Linked DNA regions of Homo sapiens: region 1 is linked to region 2. A link means that fine-mapping ties the variant in region 2 to the expression of a gene that starts in the linked region. Tissue or cell type: whole blood. Region 2 holds a variant in brackets; the other region holds the start of a gene. All regions are shown on one strand. Distances are between the middles of the regions.

Region 1 (11,052 bases), 35 kb before region 2:
TACGTGCAGGCTTGGGCTCAGAGGCCTGCATTCCTGTCTTTTTATATTAATAAGAAAAATAAAACAAAATAGTGTTGAAGTGTTGGGGCAGTGAATATTTTGGGGGGTGGTATGGAGAGATAATGGGCGATGTTTCTCAAGGCTGCTTTGAGTGGGATTAGGGGCAGTGTGGGAACCTAGAGTGGGAAATATTAAGCTGAAGGAAGATTTTGTGGTAAGGCTGTTAGAAGGAACATTTGTCATATAGAACGATTGGTGATGGCCTGGACGCAGTTTTGTATGAATTGAAAAACTAAACGGAAGACACAGGTCCGAATAAGAGAAGGAGAAAAACAGGTATTAAAGGACTAAGAATTGGGAGGACCCAGGACATCTAATTGGAGAGTAACCAAAGGGGTTCAGCATAATTACTTGCTTGGTTGGCAAGTTTTTAGGTTCTATCCAAGTTTTTGGGGTGCAGTTCAAGTTGGGCTGGTATCTGGAATGAGACTGGGGCCTAATAAAAAGGAGTGTCCATACAGGAGCTCAAATGGGCTGTACCCTGTAGCAACCCAAGGACAGGCCCGAATTCTGAGAAGGGCAAGTGGTAAAAGTATTGTCCAGTTCTTTTTAAGTTGGAGGCTGAGCTTGGTGAGGTGTGTTTTTAAAAGACCATTAGTCCATTTTACCATTCCTGAAGATTGAGAATGGTAAGGGGTATTGAAGGTTTTACTGAATATCAAGAGCCTGAGAAACTGCTTGGGTGATTTGACTAATAAAGGCTGGTCCGTTATTGGACTGTATAGAGGTGGGAAGGCCAAACCGAGCAATTATGTCTGACAGAAGGGAAGAAATGACCGCGGTGGCCTTCTCAGACCCTGTGGGAAAGGCCTCTACCTATCTAGTGAAAGCGTATACCCAGACCAAGAGGTATTTTAGTTTTCTGACTCGGGGCATGTGAGTAAAGTCAATTTACCAGTCCTGGGCAGGGGTAAATTCTCGAGCTTGATGTGTAGGGAAGGGAGGGGGCCTGAGAAATCCCTGAGGAGAAACAGAATAGCAGATGGAACACTGAGAAGTGATTTTCTGAGGATAGATTTTTACAATGGAAAGGAAATGAGAGGTTTTAAGAGATGGGCTAGCGGCTTGTAACCTACATGGAAGAGGTTATGAAATGATGACAGAATAGAATGGGCCTGTGAGGCTGGAAAGAGATATTTTCCTTGGTCCTAGAACCATTTGCCTTATGTGGGAAGAGATTGATAAGTGGAAGTTTCAGTGGGACAGTAGGTGGGAGTGACCGAAGAGAAGGATAAAAACTGGCCATGAGGGACAGAAGTTGGAACTCTAGCTGCTTCTTTAGCTACCTTATCAGCATAAGCATTGCCCTGAGTGATGGGATCTGATGCCTTTTGATGGCCCTTGCAGTGAATGACTCCAGCTTCCTTTGGAAGTAAAGTGGTCTTGAGAAGAGTTTTTATTAAAGAGGCATTAATGATGGAGGACCTTTGCGTAGTGAGGGAACCTTTTTCTGCCTATATAACAGCATGGTGGTGCAGGATATGGGAGGCATATTTAGAGACAGTATAAATATTGACGTGTAGTCCTTTTGCAAGAGTGAGGGCTCAAGTTAAGGCAATGAGTTTGGCTTGCTGAGAGGTAGGGGAGCGGGGCAGAGTGGTAGCCTCAAGGATAGATGTGGAAGATACTACTATAGCATAGCCTGCCTTTGCTGGTGAATGGCAATTAGGCCTGGTGGAACTGCCAACAATAAACCAAGTGCGATCAAGGTGAGGAACAGGAAAGAAAGAAATATGGGGAAATGGAGTGAATGCCAGGTGGATTTAGAGAGATACAGTCATGGGGGTCAGGTGTGGTATCAGGAATAATGGGGGCTAGCTAAAACAGTAGGGTTAAGTTATTTGGACAGAAAGGCTACAGGGCACAATCCCAGCTCTTGTGTAAGAATTCTGACTGCACAGCCCTGCACTTCGGCTGTGTGTAATGAAAAAAGGGTTGGGATGAGTTACGGAGAGCTAGTGTGGGAGCAGCTTTTAGGGCTGTTTTTTAAGGAACGGAAAGAGGAGTGGGGAAAGGATTTAGGATTAATGGGGTCAGCTAGGTTTGCTTTTGTGAGTTTATATAATGGTTTAGTCAGGATGGTAAAACTAGGTATCCAAAGGCGGAAGTACCTACCCATGCCTAGGAAGGAAAGGAGTTGTTGTTTTGTAGAAGTGGCTGGGGTTTGGGAGATTAGCCAGTCAGGATCAGCAGAGAGAGCATGTGTTTTTTCATGAAGAATTATGCCAAGACAGGTAATGGATGAGGAAGAAATTTGGGCTTGACTGAAGCAATGGGGGCTGTCCATGAAGCCTTGTGGCAGTACAGCCCAAGTAAGTTGCTGAGGCTGATGGATGTCAGGATCAGTCTAAGTGAGAGCAAAGAGAGGCTGGGATGAAGGGTGCAAAGGAATAGTAAAGAAAGCATGTTTGAGATCCAGAACAGAATAATGGGCTATGGAGGGGTTGTGGAGGGAGGTATTGAGGATAGGAGAGTATATGGGTTTGGCACCACAGGGTGGATAGGCAAGACAATTTGGTTGATAAGGCGCAGATCCTGAACTAACCTGTAAGGCTTGTCCGGTTTTTGGACAGGTAAAATGGGGGAATTGTAAGGAGAGTTTATAGGATTTAAAAGGCCATGCTGTTAACAGGTGAGTGATAACAGGCTTTAATCCTTTTAAAGCGTGCTGTGGGATGGGATATTGGCGTTGAGCGGGGTAAGGGTGATTAGGTTTTAATGGGATGGTACGGGTTGCGTGATCGGTTGCCAAGGAGGGAGTAGAGGTGTCCTACACTTGTGGATTAAGGTGGGGGGATACAAAAGGAGGATGCAAAGGAGGCTTTGAACTGGGAAAAAGGGCAGCATTGAGGTGTGGCTGTAGCCTAGGAATAGTCAGGGAAGCAGATAATTTAGTTAAAATTTCTCGACCTAATAAGGGAACTGGGCAGGTGGGGATAACTAAAAAGGAGTGCATAAAAGAATGTTGTCCAAGTTGGCACCAGAATTGGGAAGTTTTAAGAGGTTTAGAAGCCTGGCCATCAATACCCACAACATTTATGGAGGCAAAGGAAACAGGCCTTTGTAAAGAAGGTAATGTGGAGTGGGTAGCCTCCGTATTAATTAAGAAGGGGATGGACTTACCCTCCACTGTAAGAGTTACCCAAAGCATCTGTGATGGTCCAGGAGGCTTCTGAGGCGATCGGGCAGCGTCAGTCCGAGAAGATCTGTAAAGGAGTCAGTCAGAGAGCCTTGGGCCAGACAGAGTTCCAGGGGCTCTAGCAGTGGCTGCTGGGCGAGTTGGACAGTCTGATTTCCAGTGGGGTCCTGCACAGATGGGACATGGCTTGGGAGGAATCCCGGGCTGCACACATTCCTTGGCCCAGTGGCCAGATTTCTGGCACTTGAAGCAAGATCCTGATGGAGGAGGTCCTGTAGGAATGCTTGACCACTGCGGCTTAGGCATTCTGATGTTCTTGTGTGCTGGAGGTGCGGCTGGGTTTTGTCTTACAGCAGAGGCAAGTAATTGTAACTCAGAAATGCATTGCTGTCTGGCTGCCTCCTTTCTATTATTGTACACCTTGAAGGTGAGGTTGATTAATTCCTTTTGTGGGGTTTGAGGGCCGAATTCTAATTTTTGGAGCTTTATGTAACGTCGGGAGTGGATTGGGTACTAAAATGCATACTAAGACAGCCTTCTGACCTTTCAGAGTCTAGGGCTGTAAAGTGTCTAAGGGTTGTTGCCAAAAGAGCCATGGACTGGGCTATGTTTTCATATTTGATGAAAAAAAGCCTAAATGCTAATTGATTTGGGAGAGGTTGGATAAAGAAAAAGGAGCATTAACCTTGAGGAAATTGTTGGGTAGGTAGGGGAGGGCTAGTTGCGGAACGAAACTGTAAGCTGGACCGGGTGTGAGGAGGTGAGGTGATAGAAGGATTATAGGGTGGGGGAGTGGAGGCAGAGGAAGAATTGGGACCTGGCTCAGCCTGGCGAGGAGCAGCCTGGGGAGGAGGGGAGAGGTTAGATGGGTCCATAGAAAAGGAGGATTCACAGGACTCAGAGCTTGGGGTGGAGACTGAAGGAACAGACAGGAGAGAAAGAAGATTTGGGATGAGTCACATTGGGAGCAGAGATTAGGAAGGGACCAATGTGTAAAAGAATGCCTGGACATCAGGCACCTCAGACTATTTGCCCATTTTACGACAATAATTATCTAGCTCATGTAGGATGGAGAAATTGAAAGTGCCGTTTTCTGGCTATTTGGAACCATTGTTGAGTCTGTATTGGGGTCAAACGGTATTGCAGAAGAAAATAAGGCGTTTAGGTTTTAGGTCAGGTGTGAGTTGAAGAGGTTTTAAGTTCTTGAGAACACAGGCTAAGGGAGAAGAAGGGGGAATGGAGGGTGGAAGGTTGCCCATAGTGAAGGAGGCAAGCCCAGAGAAAAGAAGGTAGAGACCCGGAGAAGGGGGGTGGTGAGCAGCCCTGGGCTGCAATGTGGCTGAGCAGCCAAAGCAGGCGACCCACAATTGACTTGCCACCAAGGGAATGTGGGTGAATGACCAAGGCAGGCATCCCCACGGTGATCAGACACCAATGAAATGTACGTGAATAATCAGGCAGGTGTCCCTGCAGTGATTAAACACCAAGGGACGACTGTTTTCCTGAGTCCGTGACCGGAGCTGGAGTTTTGGGTCCATGGATAAAATATGTCTCCTTTGTCTCTACTAGAGAGGAGAAAGAACTGGAATTGGAAATAGAGGGAGATTTAAGGGTAGTGAGAGAGGCTGGAGAAGACAGTGAAAAGACCGCTTACCCGATTTGAAATTGGTGAGATGTTCCTTGGGCTGTTTGGTCTGAGGACCCGAGGTCATAGGTGGATCTCCTCACAGAGTGAGGGTGAGGACAGGGGACTGGTCTCCTGAAGGAGTCCTCCTGTCCCGGGTCTTCGGCACCAAATGTCACACGTGTCCGTGTGAAGAGACCACCAAAAGGCTTTGCGTGAGCAATAAAGCTGTTTATTTCACCTGGGTGCAGGTGGGCCGAGTACGAAAAAAAGAGTCAGCAAAGGGAGTTAGGGGTGTGGTAGCTTTATAGGATTTGTGTGGGTAGTGGAAAATTACAGTCAAAGGGGGTTGTTCTCTGGTGGGCAAGGCGGGGGCCGGGGGGGTGGAAGGTCTACAAAGTGCTCAGTGGGGGAGCTTCTGAGCCAGGAGAAGGAATTTCACAAGGTAATGTCATCAGTTAAGGCAGGAACCAGCCATTTTCACTACCTTTGTGATTCCTCAGTTGCTTCAGGCCATCTGGATGTATACATGCAGGCTTGGGCTCAGAGGCCTGACACAAGTTGGCACATTTGATCCTATCAACTTTAGTTTGCACTTTCACTTTTGATTTAAGAACATACTTTCTGTTTCTCAGAGGGCAGCCTCTGATGGGAATTTTAATACTCACAAGCATCAGTGGCTATATGATTGAATGTACTTCTTCAGTGTGAGTAAGTGACAACTTTCTGTAGCATGATATCCCTTATGGACACGATCCCCATTCAAAACGTTTTAAAACTATTTTATTGGGGACATTTATTAGCATGTTAAAACTCTTTTACAACCTATTAGAGCATATGCATAGAACATAAAATGTACACTGCCAAGAACAAATTTAAGGATAGGAAGAAAAGCTTACATTTTTTAAAAAGTATAAATTGAAATGTATGCAGTGTAATTTAAATTTGATTACGTTAACCTCCATTTCATCAGGACCACGTGTCGCGTTTTAACAAGAGTTTCCCTATCATGTCCAGGCTTTGGCTCTGGTTGCAGGCGCTGGGTAGGCACTTTTACGAGGAGGGACCTGGCACGATGGCACCACAAATTCCCAAGTGTGTCACCTCTGGGCGAACTTGGGCCTGTCCACTCGGCCCTGCGCGGTGGCCAGGGGCTCACCCTCTCGCACCGGGCGTCCCTCTGCGCGCAGCTTCTCTCGCCCCCCCGCGCCAGACCCGGGCGAATGGCAGCACCGTGGGACCCTGCCTTGACCGCCCCCGCCCTTCGGCGGCCTCTCCCAGCAGCCGGCAGGCTCTTGGGCGCGCCAACAGAGGGGCGCGGCTGCGGCTGTAGTCGCAGCCAGTTCCCGTTCCGGGCCCGCGAGGCAGCCGCCCCGGTCCTGCCCCTCCCTCGCGCTACTGCGGGAGCAGCGTCCTCCCGGGCCACGGCGCTTCCCGGCCCCGGCGTCCCCGGACCATGGCGCTCTCCGGGCTCTTCTCTAGCTCTCAGCGGCTGCGAAGTCTGTAAACCTGGTGGCCAAGTAAGTCCCAGCGACTGGGGATTCGCGCGGGGCAGGCCCTTTCTGAGGTCCTGGGCGCTGCGAGTGAGGAGGCGCAGGGAGGCGGGATTTGCGTGCGGGCGGAACGCAGCGCGGCTCTGGAGGAGCTCTGGGTGGAACCAAGCGGAGAAACCCGCGAGTTTGAAGCATGTAGCGAAAGTTGAGAGGGATGAACTTCACAGTCAGCGGAATCGTTTATCCCACTGTGGTCGAACGCAGGGGTTCTCAATCGTGCCAGCAGCTTAGAACCACCTGGGGAGCTTTTAAAATCCAGATATCCAGGCTGCACCCTAGATCAATTCCATCAGAATCTCACGGAGTCAGACCCAGGCCTCCGTATCTTTTAAAAGCTCCCCAAGTGATTCCAGTGTGCAGCCAGCGTTCGAGGGTTTGTGGCAAAGGCTGGAAGGGCAGACAGGGGCCTTCATGGAGTCCCGCCTGCAGACGGGACAGCAGCTCCCAGTGTCCTGCTTGGTCCTGGAGAGAGGGTGAGAACTTCCCTTGGGTTTCATGCTCCACAAAGTAAGGAAATGAGACAATGCTTGGCAAGGTCGCCTGAATATCACATTCAAAAACGCCTCCAATGTGTGCAGTTGTTTTGGCACATTGTGAAAAACATAGGAAATGACAGAGGTTGATGTCTCATTAGCTCTGCATTCTAGGAAACATTTCGGTTGTTGGTGTTTGAAATTAAGTCTGGGGAAGCTAAGCTAGTAAACCCATGGCCTTGATGACTTCTGGCCTTTCTGCTTTAAGGGTGAAGCCAGGGCCGGGCGCGGTGGCTCACGCCTGTAATCCCAGCACTTTGGGAGGCCAAGGCAGGCGGATCACCTGAGGTCGAGAGTTCGAGACCAGCCTGGCCCAACATGGTGAAACCGTCTCTACTAAAAAAAAAAAAAAAAAAAATTAACCGGGCGTGGTGGCGCATGCCTGTAATCCCAGCTACTCGGGAGGCTGAAGCAGGAGAATTGCTTGAACCCGGGAGGCAGAGGTTGCAGTGAGCCGAGATCGCCCTGTTGCGCTCCAGCCTGGGCAACAAGAGCAAAACTCCGTCAAAAACAAACAAACAAACAAAAAACAAAAAAACGGTGAAGCCAGAAGTCGTGCTTGCCAAAGGGTCGAGTTTGTTCTCCCTCAAAGCCCCTGTTGAAGATTGAACTATCACTTTCAGGGAAGAGTAAAAGAGTAACTCCACGATGCATCTTAGAGAGGAGTGGATTCCCTGTTCTCACCCAGGCTTAGATGCCAGGGGCCAGGTAGCTGAAATCCAGGCAAACCAGGCATTGACAAAGTACAGACTTCTACCGAATATGCCAGACAGATAAGCAAGCTGTGTTTAAAACAAACAGCAGAGTGGTAGAAGAGGGCTCTTTCAAATATTGTAAGAAGAGTAGGTTTTATTTTTGTGGAGTGGAGAAATAAGTTCACGCTTTGGAACCCATCAAATCTGGGTCAAAACTCGGATTCTGTCACTTCTATGCTGTGACTTTGGGCAAGTTCCTTGACCTCTCCAAGCCCCTGTTTTCCCACCTGTAAAATAAAGAGCAACCCTCTCCTGAGGCTAGCATAGTTCAGCGAGATGATGTGCATCACACACCTGGAAGGTGGTGGCGCTGGCAGGTGCTCTGGCAGAGGTAGTTATTAGACACTGGAGTGGCAGTTTGTGCCCGTTAATTGTTTACTTAGTACAGCCACTATGAGGGAGAATGTCTATAAAATGTTCCCTTCAACGCTCCATTCCTTCTCCTGCCCTGCTGCCCCGCTCAGGGCCTTAGCGGGCTTTAAGTCTGAAATCTTAGGCTGCAAATCCCCTCAGTCCCCCAGGGCGTATTAATGGCTCTGGAATACAGTTTTACTGCATGTGATAGGAATGAATATTTTGACACACACACACTCAAAAGCTGTTCTTAATCTTGAGACTTCCTCCTCTCTGTTGCCACATATATATCTTTTAAATGGCTTTCCAAGAAAGCTGGGCTGTGCACAGTGTCTCAGAATTAGTGTATGTGCACACACACGCACGTTGCTCCCTGCTGACAACATCCTCAGACCATACCCTTGGTGTTCCTGTTTTGCTCCTGACTCTTGGCCTAGGGACAGTGAATCTTTCTTGAATGACCAAGGACAGTCAGGGATCTGAGGAAGGGAGAACCCAAATTCTACAATTGCTGATGCCTGCGTCCCAGCTGGAACTTTACCCTGGTACGTGCTCTGTGCATCATGGATGGTCACTTTGATCCTAACAGCAGTGCTGTTTAGATTAGACATCAGAAATAGAAACAGTAAGTAATATAGGCATAAAGATCAAGTGTTTTTCTAGTGTATGTGTGATCACTGATATTTGCTTACACAAGACTATCAAAGTCTTATCTCTTATTCAAAGAAAAGGATTCAATATTTGTTCAAAATCTAAGATATGAACGTAGGATTTAAGGTTTAAGTTACTAGTTTCTTCTATCATTCTTATTATTGGGGGGATTTTTTTTAGGCAAGAAGAAATTAGAAAAGCTAAAATGTGTACTTATGCTGAATTTTTGTCATGCAGAGGCTCTAGGTATTTTGCAAGTTTTCAGAAGTCCCATTTTCTTTTATCTTCTAGGGACAGTCAGTTGCATGTCACACAAGGGGCCTCCTTTGATTTATCCAAAAGGTCTGACCTGGTTTCTGGAAAAACTCTTTAGCGCATCAAATACTCGTTGAGGGCAAGTGTTGTTTCTAAACTTGACTCTTGTGGTGAGAGGTGAGTAGTCACTGGCATGTCAGTTAGCTGACATTTTTTACCCACGCTAGAAAGTTCATTCAGGCAAGACTTCCTGGCTTGAACTCTTATTTAAACATGTGTTTTATCTGGAACTGCCACAGTCCAAACTGTGGGCAGAGATTCCTGTGCAGAGTTGGCTAAGGCAGGCATGCCACCGGCCCTTCTCTTCGCCATCCTCCCTGTCTCTGGAGCCATTGAGCCAACCGGGGATGATGCCACTCTGAAGGGATCTCACCTTGGTCCTCTAATGGGGCAGAGTTCCCTGATGAGGGATGCACGTCCTTAGAGCCAACAAGGCAATTTTGTATTATACTGCATGGAAATTAAAAGTTACTCTCCAGTAAACTGCCACTTTAGAATTTGTTTTACTGAAGCGTCCTTTTCCTCTAAATTATAGAGCACTGTAGTAAGGGCCCAGATAATTTCAAAGTGAGCACCAGATTAGTGCCAGATTTTGGCAGATTAAGATTTTAATAAAACATGAACATTCACCTTGATTACATTTGTTTCAGAAAGTTGATGTCCCTTGGCCTTCTGTTCTGTCATTGCCACCATACAGGTTAGGGTCAGAATTGGGAGAATGTAGTCATTTGGTAGATATTTTCAGAGCCACATGCAACTGGGCCTGGCAGTCACATATTGCTAAGGAAACGCCTTACATGATAGCAGAGCTGAGAGCAGATGATGATTTACTTGGGAGAGTATTCGTTTTCTAATTCCCAAAAGATTAAAAGTCTAATGAGTAAGAACTTCCCCTGCTTCTTGTAACACATGCCCAGATTGCTGCCTATGACCTCAAAACCAAACCTTCTTGGAAGGAACTGGGGGAAAGCTAGGCTTTTTTGGCAGGGGATATCCTAACTCCTTACAACACAGGCCCCTTCAGTGAGTGGGTCATTTCTGGACTCCATTTAACAAAGCTAGTGTTTCATACTTAATATGAAAACAGGCGTGTTGATGATTTCAAATAGAGATGTTGGGTCTATAAAGTATACCAGACATGCAGGGCTGAAATGGAAGAAACAATGGGTTTTGGAGTCAGAACCAGGATCCAATTCCTGTTTTATTCCTTACTTCAGGGGTCCCCAATCCCTAGGCCATGGACCAATACCAGTCGGTGGCCTCTTAGGTGGGCCGCACAGCAGAAGGTGAGCAGCAGTGAGCAAGCATTACCGCCTGAACTCTGCCTCCTGTCAGATCAGCGGTGGCATCAGATTCTCATGCGAGGGGAACCCTATGGTGAACCGCACACGCGAGGGATCTAGGCTGCACATTCCTTATGAGAATTTAATGCCTGATGATCTGAGGTAGACAGTTTCATCCTAAAACGATCTCCCCTGTGCCCCTACTCGCCGCTGTCTGTGGAAAAATTGTCTTCCATGAAACCAGTTCCTCGTGCCAAAAAGGTTGGGGATCACTGCCTTAACTAACTGTGTGACCTTCACCAACATACTTAACCACTCCAACTCTGTGTCCTCCTTTGTAAACTAGTTACAATAATGCTTTCCTTGCTGGGCAGTTTTCAGTATTTGATGAGCTAATCTATGTAAAGTGCTTAGCACATCACCCAGCTTCTAGTAAGTCATGATTATGATGATAAAGATTATGATGATTACTTTGGTTCCAGGGCTGGTCTTTCCTTCTCCTAGTTGTGTGACTTCAGATAAGGTTTTTAATCTTCTTGAGCCTTGGCTTTTGAATCTGTAAAATGGGCTAACTCTACCTATCTGGAAAGATTGCTTTGAGGCTTGATTTGATTAAATGAAATGATGACAGGCCTGATCTGGTAGACCCTAAATAAGAATAGCATTTACATAGACTTCCTGTGTCCCACACTGGTCTAAGAGTTTAGGGTTTTTGTTGTTTGTTTTTAGCTCATTTTATCTTCCCAGCGCCCCTGTGCAGTGGTTATCATTTCCCTTGTTTTATA
Region 2 (11,052 bases):
GATTTGGAACTGACTCCCAGTGCCTGTCACACCAGTGTCAGAGTGTAAATAATTGCATGGGGACATGGGGTGCAGGGGGTCGAAGGCTGCCCTAGCCTGGGAATTGGAAAACCTGGAGTCTGTTCTCTGTACTCTCAGCCAGTGACTCTCCCTCTGTAGCCCCAGGCAGTCTCACACTCAGTGCCACCCTCTGTCCATCTTTTTTTTTTCTCCCCCAAATGGAGTCCCGCTCTGTTGCCCAGGCTGGAGTGCAGTGGCGTGATCTCAGCTCACTGCAACCTCCGCCTCCTGGGTTCAAGCGATTCTCTTGCCCCAGCCTCCTGAGTAGCTGGGATTACAGGCACACGCCACCATGTCCGGCTAAGTTTTTTGTATTTTTAGTAGGACGGGGTTTCCCCATGTTGGCCAGGCTGGTCTTGAAATCCTGACCTCAGGTGATCCGCCCGCCTCGGCCTTCCAAAATGTTGGGGTTACAGGCATGAGCCGCCGCACCCGACCCCTCTGTCCATCTTTTCAATGGGAAACTCCACACCAGTGTGGTGGCCCTGCCCTTCCTGCTGTCCCCAGGTGAAGCTTTCCTTCACACCAGTGCAAGAAAAAACAGCTTGTAGGAAAGCAGAGGATATGGGTAACCACGGGAAGCACACTCAGTTCTCTGGCTGCATCAGTTAGGATTAGTTTTAGCTGAGAGCGAAAACCCCAAATGTTGGTGAGTTACAAGCTTATTTCTCTCATGTAAAAGTCTAGAGGTAGGTAGTTCAGGACTGGTATGGAGTCTCCATGACCCTCCGGAGCCCAGGCTCTCTTCTGCCTTCCTGTTCTGCCATCCTCACTACCCGGCTTTCCCATCTTGGCCCAAGAGGGCTGCTCAAACTCCAGCCATCTAGTCGACACTCTAGCTATCAGTAAGAAGGAAGGGCAAAGATTGAGAGCATGCCTCAATCTTTTAAGAACACTTCTTGGCTATTACTAATTATATTGCTGCTTAGATTTCAGAACTTAATGGTATGGGCAGAATTTAATGAGATGGGCCCAGCTAAAAGATGGGGGAATCTATTGCTAAGAAAGTATAGATATTGGGAATGTCTAGCAGCCTGTGCTGTCTTGGGCTGGCCATGCCATGTACATACACACTATTTCCCAGCACCAAGCTGGGGACTCTGAGGGAAAGGGTCCAGAGTGTCTGACTTGATCATTTTGATGTGGCCTAAAAATCAAGCTTTTAATTGTTCAGCCTTTTACTTGTTATCAAGGTCAGCTTGTGGGTCTAATTGGGCCCAAGGCTTGTGTTTCTAAGTAAAGTTTTATTGGAACGCAGCCATACCCATTTATTTACTTACTGGCTGCTTCACACTACACAGTTGAGTAGCTGTGACAGAGACCACATGGCCCACAGAGCCTAAAATATTTGCTGTCTGACACTTTACAGAATGACATGAGCAGTCTCCTTTGACAGTGGGACTCACAGCCTTTTCCAGTGACAAATCAGGGTTAGCCCATGTGTTTCTGGATGGGGGGAAGCTGTTGGCATTTTGGGTATAACAGTTCTTGTGAGACCTGTCCAGCATTTTGCAGGACACCTAACATCATTGGCCCTGCCTGCAAGATGACAGGGCACTCCCTCCTCCAGTCACAACCACTAAAAGCAGCCCCTGACATTTCCAAACCCATGCCCTCCACCATACGAGAACCAGGTACAGGGTCTGGCTGACACATAGGTCACACGCAAAGGGTGGATGTCAGAGGTGGCTGGCCTCACACGTCCTCCCTGTGTCCTTCACGGTCGTGTGAGGAGCCAGGGGCTGTGCTGCAGCCTCGCTCATGGGCTGGTGCAGGATGGGTCTGGCGGCCCCACGTTGGCCAGGCTTTGTAAGGGGCTATTTGGCTGATTGCTGTGGCCATTCTCCAGGGGCGTCTATACCTGAGAAAACTCCAGGGCCTGAAGGCTTCTGGATCTTTGTAAGATTAATGGTCCTTCATAATGAGTGCCTGCCCTGACTCGTAATTTTTTTGCTGTTTTATTTCAGACTCAGCGTAAACCAGATCACTGACGGTGGGGTAAAGGTGCTAAGCGAAGAGCTGACCAAATACAAAATTGTGACCTATTTGGGGTATGTCTTTCTCCAGAACACTGGGCCAACTACCTAGTAATAATACAGAGCTGCAGGGAATTCACATTCCCATAGGTCCCTGGATGATCGGCACGGATGGCCCAGGGCTGGGAAGAGCGCTGGCCCAGGAGTTGAGAGTCCTGGGTTCTCTTTGTGGCTCGGCCAGTCATGAAGTCTTGCTGAGCCTCAGCCTCCTCACCTGTAAAACTGGGATCCCAGTATAGGCAAGTAGGCTTACAACTGGTTATTGGGGGATGCAACGAGAATATAAGGGGATATATTTAATAAATGCTAGAATCCTGTTTACATATTAGTCTGGACTATTTTGGGTCCATAATCCCTCATCCAGAGCCTTTGGGGCAAGACCCGAATGGGGATTCTGAGTGCATGCTATGGCATGACGTGGCCGCAGGGGTCTAAGGCAGTGCCCCATTTTCAAACACTTTCATATTTCTCCCGCAGAATGTATGAAACAGTCAAACCAAGTGTGGTAAGAAAGACTATAAGTAGCTCCACATCAGTTGCCAAAAGAATTGTGAGAAACTTTGGGCATTCAGAGCCTTTGAGGTTTTGGAGTCTGAGAGAAGGGATTGCGGGCCAGCCCCACACAACTGGTGGCTCTGCAAGCTGGAGCAGTTGTTCAGTTTCTTGGGGCCTCAGTGGCCTTCGATGTTAATGAGGACATGGACGCAAACGACCCCGGGCCACACTCGGCTCCAGGGCTCTGTGTGGCTGTGGAACCCTGGAAGCCTGAGCTTAGCTGCCTTTCAACTTCCATCTGCTGTACTATTGAATTGGCATTGAGCGGTGAGATGGCTGAAAGGTAGACATCGAGAAGTTTTAATATTCAGAATCTTTTCTTCTCAAGACGCTGAATGTAATCTTAGTTGTAAATACCCATCACCTGCCAGTCACCGAGCACTCATGCACCAGGGCTTTGCGTTATGTCCTAAGATCCTCATAACCACCCTGCAAGGGGACTATCATCATTACCTCTGTATTACAGATGGAGAAACTGAGGCACAGAGAGGTAACGTGACTTGTCTCAGGCCATAAAGCTGGGGAAAGTAGTGGAGCTGGTTTTGAACCTGAGCTGTGAGACCTCAGAGCCCTAAACTCTGGTGCCTGTGTGTTCCCCTTTCAACCCAGACTTTGGAAATCAGTAGACACCATATGCTTCAAAAAACAGGGGCTATTAAAATGACATCAGGAGCCAGAAAGTCTCATGGCTGTGCTTTCTCTTGAAGTTTATACAACAACCAGATCACCGATGTCGGAGCCAGGTACGTCACCAAAATCCTGGATGAATGCAAAGGCCTCACGCATCTTAAGTAAGTGGGGTAGGCACCAGGTTCCTTAGTATATTCTCTTGATCACCCCCTTCTGTTGTTCAAAGATTAAATGTCACAGTAAAGAGCTTTCATCCTAAAGCCTTCCACTTGTCCCAGGGCCATGTTGGTCAAGTAAAGATACCTCTGTGTGATCTGTGAGGCTTGGATTCTGGAAGGGCCTCCCGTTATTGGTAGGGGGAAAGGTTGGCATTTTGATTTCATTAACTACTAGGCCGAAGAAAGGACTAACTCTCACCCTTTCTGGTGGTCTTTTTGCCCCAAGGGAGTTTCCTGTCGGGTTGCAAGGAAGAGCTTGGGCCCTTGCCCTGCTGTAGGTGTGCCCTGCGCAGGGGGTGACAGTGCGCCAGGCTTGGAGCCTCTGGTCCTGCCCTGACAGTGGCCACATACCTTGACCCTTGGCAGTCAAAGTGGGACCTCCCAGGTCTCCCGAGGGAAGTCAGTGATGCTGCTGAGGTCAATTAGAGGACCCCAGGGAGGGCTCAGGTCCCTGAGCTTCTGCAGAGACTGTGGACCATCTCCTGGAGAGGAACCCTGACTGACTGTCCTCAGGGCTTCAGTTCCCTCCCTGACAGGAGGCCCAGGCCATGGCTCTTGTGGATCCCAGAAGAAAGTGTACGGTTCCCAAGATGGGGCTGGAAGGGGCTCTGTGCTGGGGAGGAGGGTGACCCACATTGGAGCCCCTGCATAGCTGGAGGCTGACTGTGTGTGACTCTCTCTGCAGACTGGGAAAAAACAAAATAACAAGTGAAGGAGGGAAGTATCTCGCCCTGGCTGTGAAGAACAGCAAATCAATCTCTGAGGTTGGGTGAGTAGAAGGGGA[T/C]GGATGTATGTGGTACAACCTGCTGTGTGTGTGGGGGGCGGGCCTTGCTGTTCTTTTCATACATCAGTACACCAGAAGGACCACTGGGGCTCGCTGTCGGGGAGAGATAGTGGAGAGCTTTCACCATGCTGCGAAACTGAAACCGTGCCCATTAAGCAATAACTCCCCGGTCCCCCTCCCCCCTGCCTCTTGCAGCCACCCTGCTACTTACTCTCTCTATGGTTTTGACTACTCTACCTCATGTAAGTGGAATCATACAGTATTTGCCTTTTGGGGATGGCTGATTTCACTAGCATCATGTCCTCAAGATTCGTCCACATGGAAGCATGGGACAGGATTTCCTTTTTTTTTTTTTTTTTTTTTTTTTTTGACAGAGTCTCGCTCTGTTGCCCAGGCTGGAGTGCAGTGGCATGATCTCGGCTCACTGCAACCTCTGCCTTCTGGGTTCAAGCGATTCTCTCGCCTCAGCCACACGAGTAGCTGGGATTATAGGCACCCGCCACCAATCCCAGCTAATTTTTGTATTTTTAGTAGAGGCGGGGTTTCACCATGTTGGCCAGGCTGGTCTCAAACTCCTGACCTCAAATGATCCACCCACCTCGGTCTCCCAAAGTGTCAGGATTATAGGCGTGAGCCACCGTGCCCCGCCAGGATTTCCTTCTTTTTTAAGGCTGAGTAATACTCCATTGCATGGCTATGCCACATTTTGTTTACTCATTCATCCAAGAACAGACACTGGCTTGCTTCTATGCTTTGGCTGTTGTGAATAATGCTGCTGTGCACATGGGCATACAAATGTCTCTTCAAGGACTGCCTTCAATTCTTTTTTTTTTTTTTTTTTTTTTTTAGATTCTTTTTTTTTTTATTATACTCTAAGTTTTAGGGTACATGTGCACATTGTGCAGGTTAGTTACATATGTATACATGTGCCATGCTGGTGCGCTGCACCCACTAATGTGTCATCTAGCATTAGGTATATCTCCCAATGCTATCCCTCCCCCCTCCCCCGACCCCACCACAGTCCCCAGAGTGTGATATTCCCCTTCCTGTGTCCATGTGATCTCATTGTTCAATTCCCACCTATGAGTGAGAATATGCGGTGTTTGGTTTTTTGTTCTTGCGATAGTTTACTGAGAATGATGGTTTCCAATTTCATCCATGTCCCTACAAAGGATATGAACTCATCATTTTTTATGGCTGCATAGTATTCCATGGTGTATATGTGCCACATTTTCTTAATCCAGTCTATCATTGTTGGACATTTGGGTTGGTTCCAAGTCTTTGCTATTGTGAATAGTGCCACAATAAACATACGTGTGCATGTGTCTTTATAGCAGCATGATTTATACTCATTTGGGTATATACCCAGTAATGGGATGGCTGGGTCAAATGGTATTTCTAGTTCTAGATCCCTGAGGAATCGCCACACTGACTTCCACAATGGTTGAACTAGTTTACAGTCCCACCAACAGTGTAAAAGTGTTCCTATTTCTCCGCATCCTCTCCAGCACCTGCTGTTTCCTGACTTTTTAATGATTGCCATTCTAACTGGTGTGAGATGATATCTCATAGTGGTTTTGATTTGCATTTCTCTGATGGCCAGTGATGATGAGCATTTCTTCATGTGTTTTTTGGCTGCATAAATGTCTTCTTTTGAGAAGTGTCTGTTCATGTCCTTCGCCCACTTTTTGATGGGGTTGTTTGTTTTTTTCTTGTAAATTTGTTTGAGTTCATTGTAGATTCTGGATATTAGCCCTTTGTCAGATGAGTAGGTTGCGAAAATTTTCTCCCATGTTGTAGGTTGCCTGTTCACTCTGATGGTAGTTTCTTTTGCTGTGCAGAAGCTCTTTAGTTTAATTAGATCCCATTTGTCAATTTTGTCTTTTGTTGCCATTGCTTTTGGTGTTTTGGACATGAAGTCCTTGCCCACGCCTATGTCCTGAATGGTAATGCCTAGGTTTTCTTCTAGGGTTTTTATGGTTTTAGGTTTAACGTTTAAATCTTTAATCCATCTTGAATTGATTTTTGTATAAGGTGTAAGGAAGGGATCCAGTTTCAGCTTTCTACATATGGCTAGCCAGTTTTCCCAGCACCATTTATTAAATAGGGAATCCTTTCCCCATTGCTTGTTTTTCTCAGGTTTGTCAAAGATCAGATAGTTGTAGATATGCGGCATTATTTCTGAGGGCTCTGTTCTGTTCCATTGATCTATATCTCTGTTTTGGTACCAGTACCATGCTGTTTTGGTTACTGTAGCCTTGTAGTATAGTTTGAAGTCAGGTAGTGTGATGCCTCCAGCTTTGTTCTTTTGGCTTAGGATTGACTTGGCGATGCGGGCTCTTTTTTGGTTCCATATGAACTTTAAAGTAGTTTTTTCCAATTCTGTGAAGAAAGTCATTGGTAGCTTGATGGGGATGGCATTGAATCTGTAAATTACCTTGGGCAGTATGGCCATTTTCACGATATTGATTCTTCCTACCCATGAGCATGGAATGTTCTTCCATTTGTTTGTGTCCTCTTTTATTTCCTTGAGCAGTGGTTTGTAGTTCTCCTTGAAGAGGTCCTTCACATCCCTTGTAAGTTGGATTCCTAGGTATTTTATTCTCTTTGAAGCAATTGTGAATGGGAGTTCACCCATGATTTGGCTCTCTGTTTGTCTGTTGTTGGTGTATAAGAATGCTTGTGATTTTTGTACATTGATTTTGTATCCTGAGACTTTGCTGAAGTTGCTTATCAGCTTAAGGAGATTTTGGGCTGAGACGATGGGGTTTTCTAGATAAACAATCATGTCGTCTGCAAACAGGGACAATTTGACTTCCTCTTTTCCTAATTGAATACCCTTTATTTCCTTCTCCTGCCTGATTGCCCTGGCCAGAACTTCCAACACTATGTTGAATAGGAGCGGTGAGAGAGGGCATCCCTGTCTTGTGCCAGTTTTCAAAGGGAATGCTTCCAGTTTTTGCCCATTCAGTATGATATTGGCTGTGGGTTTGTCATAGATAGCTCTTATTATTTTGAAATACGTCCCATCAATACCTAATTTATTGAGAGTTTTTAGCATGAAGGGTTGTTGAATTTTGTCAAAGGCTTTTTCTGCATCTATTGAGATAATCATGTGGTTTTTGTCTTTGGCTCTGTTTATATGCTGGATTACATTTATTGATTTGCGTATATTGAACCAGCCTTGCATCCCAGGGATGAAGCCCACTTGATCATGGTGGATAAGCTTTTTGATGTGCTGCTGGATTCGGTTTGCCAGTATTTTATTGAGGATTTTTGCATCAATGTTCATCAAGGATATTGGTCTAAAATTCTCTTTTTTGGTTGTGTCTCTGCCCGGCTTTGGTATCAGAATGATGCTGGCCTCATAAAATGAGTTAGGGAGGATTCCCTCTTTTTCTATTGATTGGAATAGTTTCAGAAGGAATGGTACCAGTTCCTCCTTGTACCTCTGGTAGAATTCGGCTGTGAATCCATCTGGTCCTGGACTCTTTTTGGTTGGTAAACTATTGATTATTGCCACAATTTCAGAGCCTGTTATTGGTCTATTCAGAGATTCAACTTCTTCCTGGTTTAGTCTTGGGAGAGTGTATGTGTCGAGGAATGTATCCATTTCTTCTAGATTTTCTAGTTTATTTGCGTAGAGGTGTTTGTAGTATTCTCTGATGGTAGTTTGTATTTCTGTGGGATCGGTGGTGATATCCCCTTTATCATTTTTTATTGTGTCTATTTGATTCTTCTCTCTTTTTTTCTTTATTAGTCTTGCTAGCGGTCTATCAATTTTGTTGATCCTTTCGAAAAACCAGCTCCTGGATTCATTGATTTTTTGAAGGGTTTTTTGTGTCTCTATTTCCTTCAGTTCTGCTCTGATTTTAGTTATTTCTTGCCTTCTGCTAGCTTTTGAATGTGTTTGCTCTTGCTTTTCTAGTTCTTTTAATTGTGATGTTAGGGTGTCAATTTTGGATCTTTCCTGCTTTCTCTTGTAGGCATTTAGTGCTATAAATTTCCCTCTACACACTGCTTTGAATGCGTCCCAGAGATTCTGGTATGTGGTGTCTTTGTTCTCGTTGGTTTCAAAGAACATCTTTATTTCTGCCTTCATTTCGTTATGTACCCAGTAGTCATTCAGGAGCAGGTTGTTCAGTTTCCATGTAGTTGAGCGGCTTTGAGTGAGATTCTTAATCCTGAGTTCTAGTTTGATTGCACTGTGGTCTGAGAGATAGTTTGTTATAATTTCTGTTCTTTTACATTTGCTGAGGAGAGCTTTACTTCCAACTATGTGGTCAATTTTGGAATAGGTGTGGTGTGGTGCTGAAAAAAATGTATATTCTGTTGATTTGGGGTGGAGAGTTCTGTAGATGTCTATTAGGTCTGCTTGGTGCAGAGCTGAGTTCAATTCCTGGGTATCCTTGTTGACTTTCTGTCTCATTGATCTGTCTAATGTTGACAGTGGGGTGTTAAAGTCTCCCATTATTAATGTGTGGGAGTCTAAGTCTCTTTGTAGGTCACTGAGGACTTGCTTTATGAATCTGGGTGCTCCTGTATTGGGTGCATAAATATTTAGGATAGTTAGCTCCTCTTGTTGAATTGATCCCTTTACCATTATGTAATGGCCTTCTTTGTCTCTTTTGATCTTTGTTGGTTTAAAGTCTGTTTTATCAGAGACTAGGATTGCAACCCCTGCCTTTTTTTGTTTTCCATTGGCTTGGTAGATCTTCCTCCATCCTTTTATTTTGAGCCTATGTGTGTCTCTGCACGTGAGATGGGTTTCCTGAATACAGCACACTGATGGGTCTTGACTCTTTATCCAACTTGCCAGTCTGTGTCTTTTAATTGCAGAATTTAGTCCATTTATATTTAAAGTTAATATTGTTATGTGTGAATTTGATCCTGTCATTATGATGTTAGCTGGCGATTTTGCTCATTAGTTGATGCAGTTTCTTCCTAGTCTCGATGGTCTTTACATTTTGGCATGATTTTGCAGCGGCTGGTACCGGTTGTTCCTTTCCATGTTTACCGCTTCCTTCAGGAGCTCTTTTAGGGCAGGCCTGGTGGTGACAAAATCTCTCAGCATTTGCTTGTCTATAAAGTATTTTATTTCTCCTTCACTTATGAAGCTTAGTTTGGCTGGATATGAAATTCTGGGTTGAAAATTCTTTTCTTTAAGAATGTTGAATATTGGCCCCCACTCTCTTCTGGCTTGTAGGGTTTCTGCCGAGAGATCCGCTGTTAGTCTGATGGGCTTTCCTTTGAGGGTAACCCGAACTTTCTCTCTGGCTGCCCTTAACATTTTTTCCTTCATTTCAACTTTGGTGAATCTGACAATTATGTGTCTTGGAGTTGCTCTTCTCGAGGAGTATCTTTGTGGCGTTCTCTGTATTTCCTGAATCTGAACGTTGGCCTGCCTTGCTAGATTGGGGAAGTTCTCCTGGATAATATCCTGCAGAGTGTTTTCCAACTTGGTTCCATTCTCCACATCACTTTCAGGTACACCAATCAGACGTAGATTTGGTCTTTTCACATAGTCCCATATTTCTTGGAGGCTTTGCTCATTTCTTTTTATTCTTTTTTCTCTAAACTTCCCTTCTCGCTTCATTTCATTCATTTCATCTTCCATTGCTGATACCCTTTCTTCCAGTTGATCGCATCGGCTCCTGAGGCTTCTGCATTCTTCACGTAGTTCTCGAGCCTTGGTTTTCAGCTCCATCAGCTCCTTTAAGCACTTCTCTGTATTGGTTATTCTAGTTATACATTCTTCTAAATTTTTTTCAAAGTTTTCAACTTCTTTGCCTTTGGTTTGAATGTCCTCCCGTAGCTCAGAGTAATTTGATCGTCTGAAGCCTTCTTCTCTCAGCTCGTCAAAATCATTCTCCATCCAGCTTTGTTCTGTTGCTGGTGAGGAACTGCGTTCCTTTGGAGGAGGAGAGGCGCTCTGCGTTTTAGAGTTTCCAGTTTTTCTGTTCTGTTTTTTCCCCATCTTTGTGGTTTTATCTACTTTTGGTCTTTGATGATGGTGATGTACAGATGGGTTTTCAGTGTAGATGTCCTTTCTGGTTGTTAGTTTTCCTTCTAACAGACAGGACCCTCAGCTGCAGGTCTGTTGGAATACCCTGCCGTGTGAGGTGTCAGTGTGCCTCTGCTGGGGGGTGCCTCCCAGTTAGGCTGCTCGGGGGTCAGGGGTCAGGGACCCACTTGAGGAGGCAGTCTGCCCGTTCTCAGATCTCCAGCTGCGTGCTGGGAGAACCACTGCTCTCTTCAAAGCTGTCAGACAGGGACACTTAAGTCTGCAGAGGTTACTGCTGTCTTTTTGTTTGTCTGTGCCCTGCCCCCAGAGGTGGAGCCTACAGAGGCAGGCAGGCCTCCTTGAGCTGTGGTGGGCTCCACCCAGTTCGAGCTTCCCGGCTGCTTTGTTTACCTAAGCAAGCCTGGGCTATGGCGGGCGCCCCTCCCCCAGCCTCGTTGCCGCCTTGCAGTTTGATCTCAGACTGCTGTGCTAGCAATCAGCGAGATTCCGTGGGCGTAGGACCCTCTGAGCCAGGTGTGGGATATAGTCTCGTGGTGCGCCGTTTCTTAAGCCGGTCTGAAAAGCGCAATATTCGGGTGGGAGTGACCCGATTTTCCAGGTGCGTCCGTCACCCCTTTCTTTGACTCGGAAAGGGAACTCCCTGATCCCTTGCGCTTCCCAGGTGAGGCAATGCCTCGCCCTGCTTCGGCTCGCGCACGGTGCGCGCACACACTGGCCTGCGCCCACTGTCTGGCGCTCCCTAGT

What was found. PIP is the estimated chance that this variant, and not a neighbour inherited with it, causes the effect.
Region 1: it holds the start of NOD1, and the variant in region 2 is fine-mapped to the expression of NOD1 in whole blood (TOPMed, PIP above 0.99).

What each region holds. Positions count from the first base shown.
Region 1 is chr7:30,473,897-30,484,948 of GRCh38, reverse strand. NOD1 (nucleotide binding oligomerization domain containing 1) reads left to right here and starts at 6,165. Exons shown (of 14, transcript NM_006092.4): 1 at 6,165-6,343. RefSeq lists a silencer at 6,037-6,276 and an enhancer at 5,925-6,669.
Region 2 is chr7:30,439,357-30,450,408 of GRCh38, reverse strand. It overlaps NOD1 (nucleotide binding oligomerization domain containing 1), which reads left to right. Exons shown (of 14, transcript NM_006092.4): 7 at 2,028-2,111; 8 at 3,359-3,442; 9 at 4,185-4,268. Among named protein-coding and RNA genes, the nearest start is that of NOD1, 34 kb to the left of the region's middle. RefSeq lists an enhancer at 383-883 and a silencer at 4,411-4,570. The variant T/C (reference allele first, on the strand shown) is at 4,284.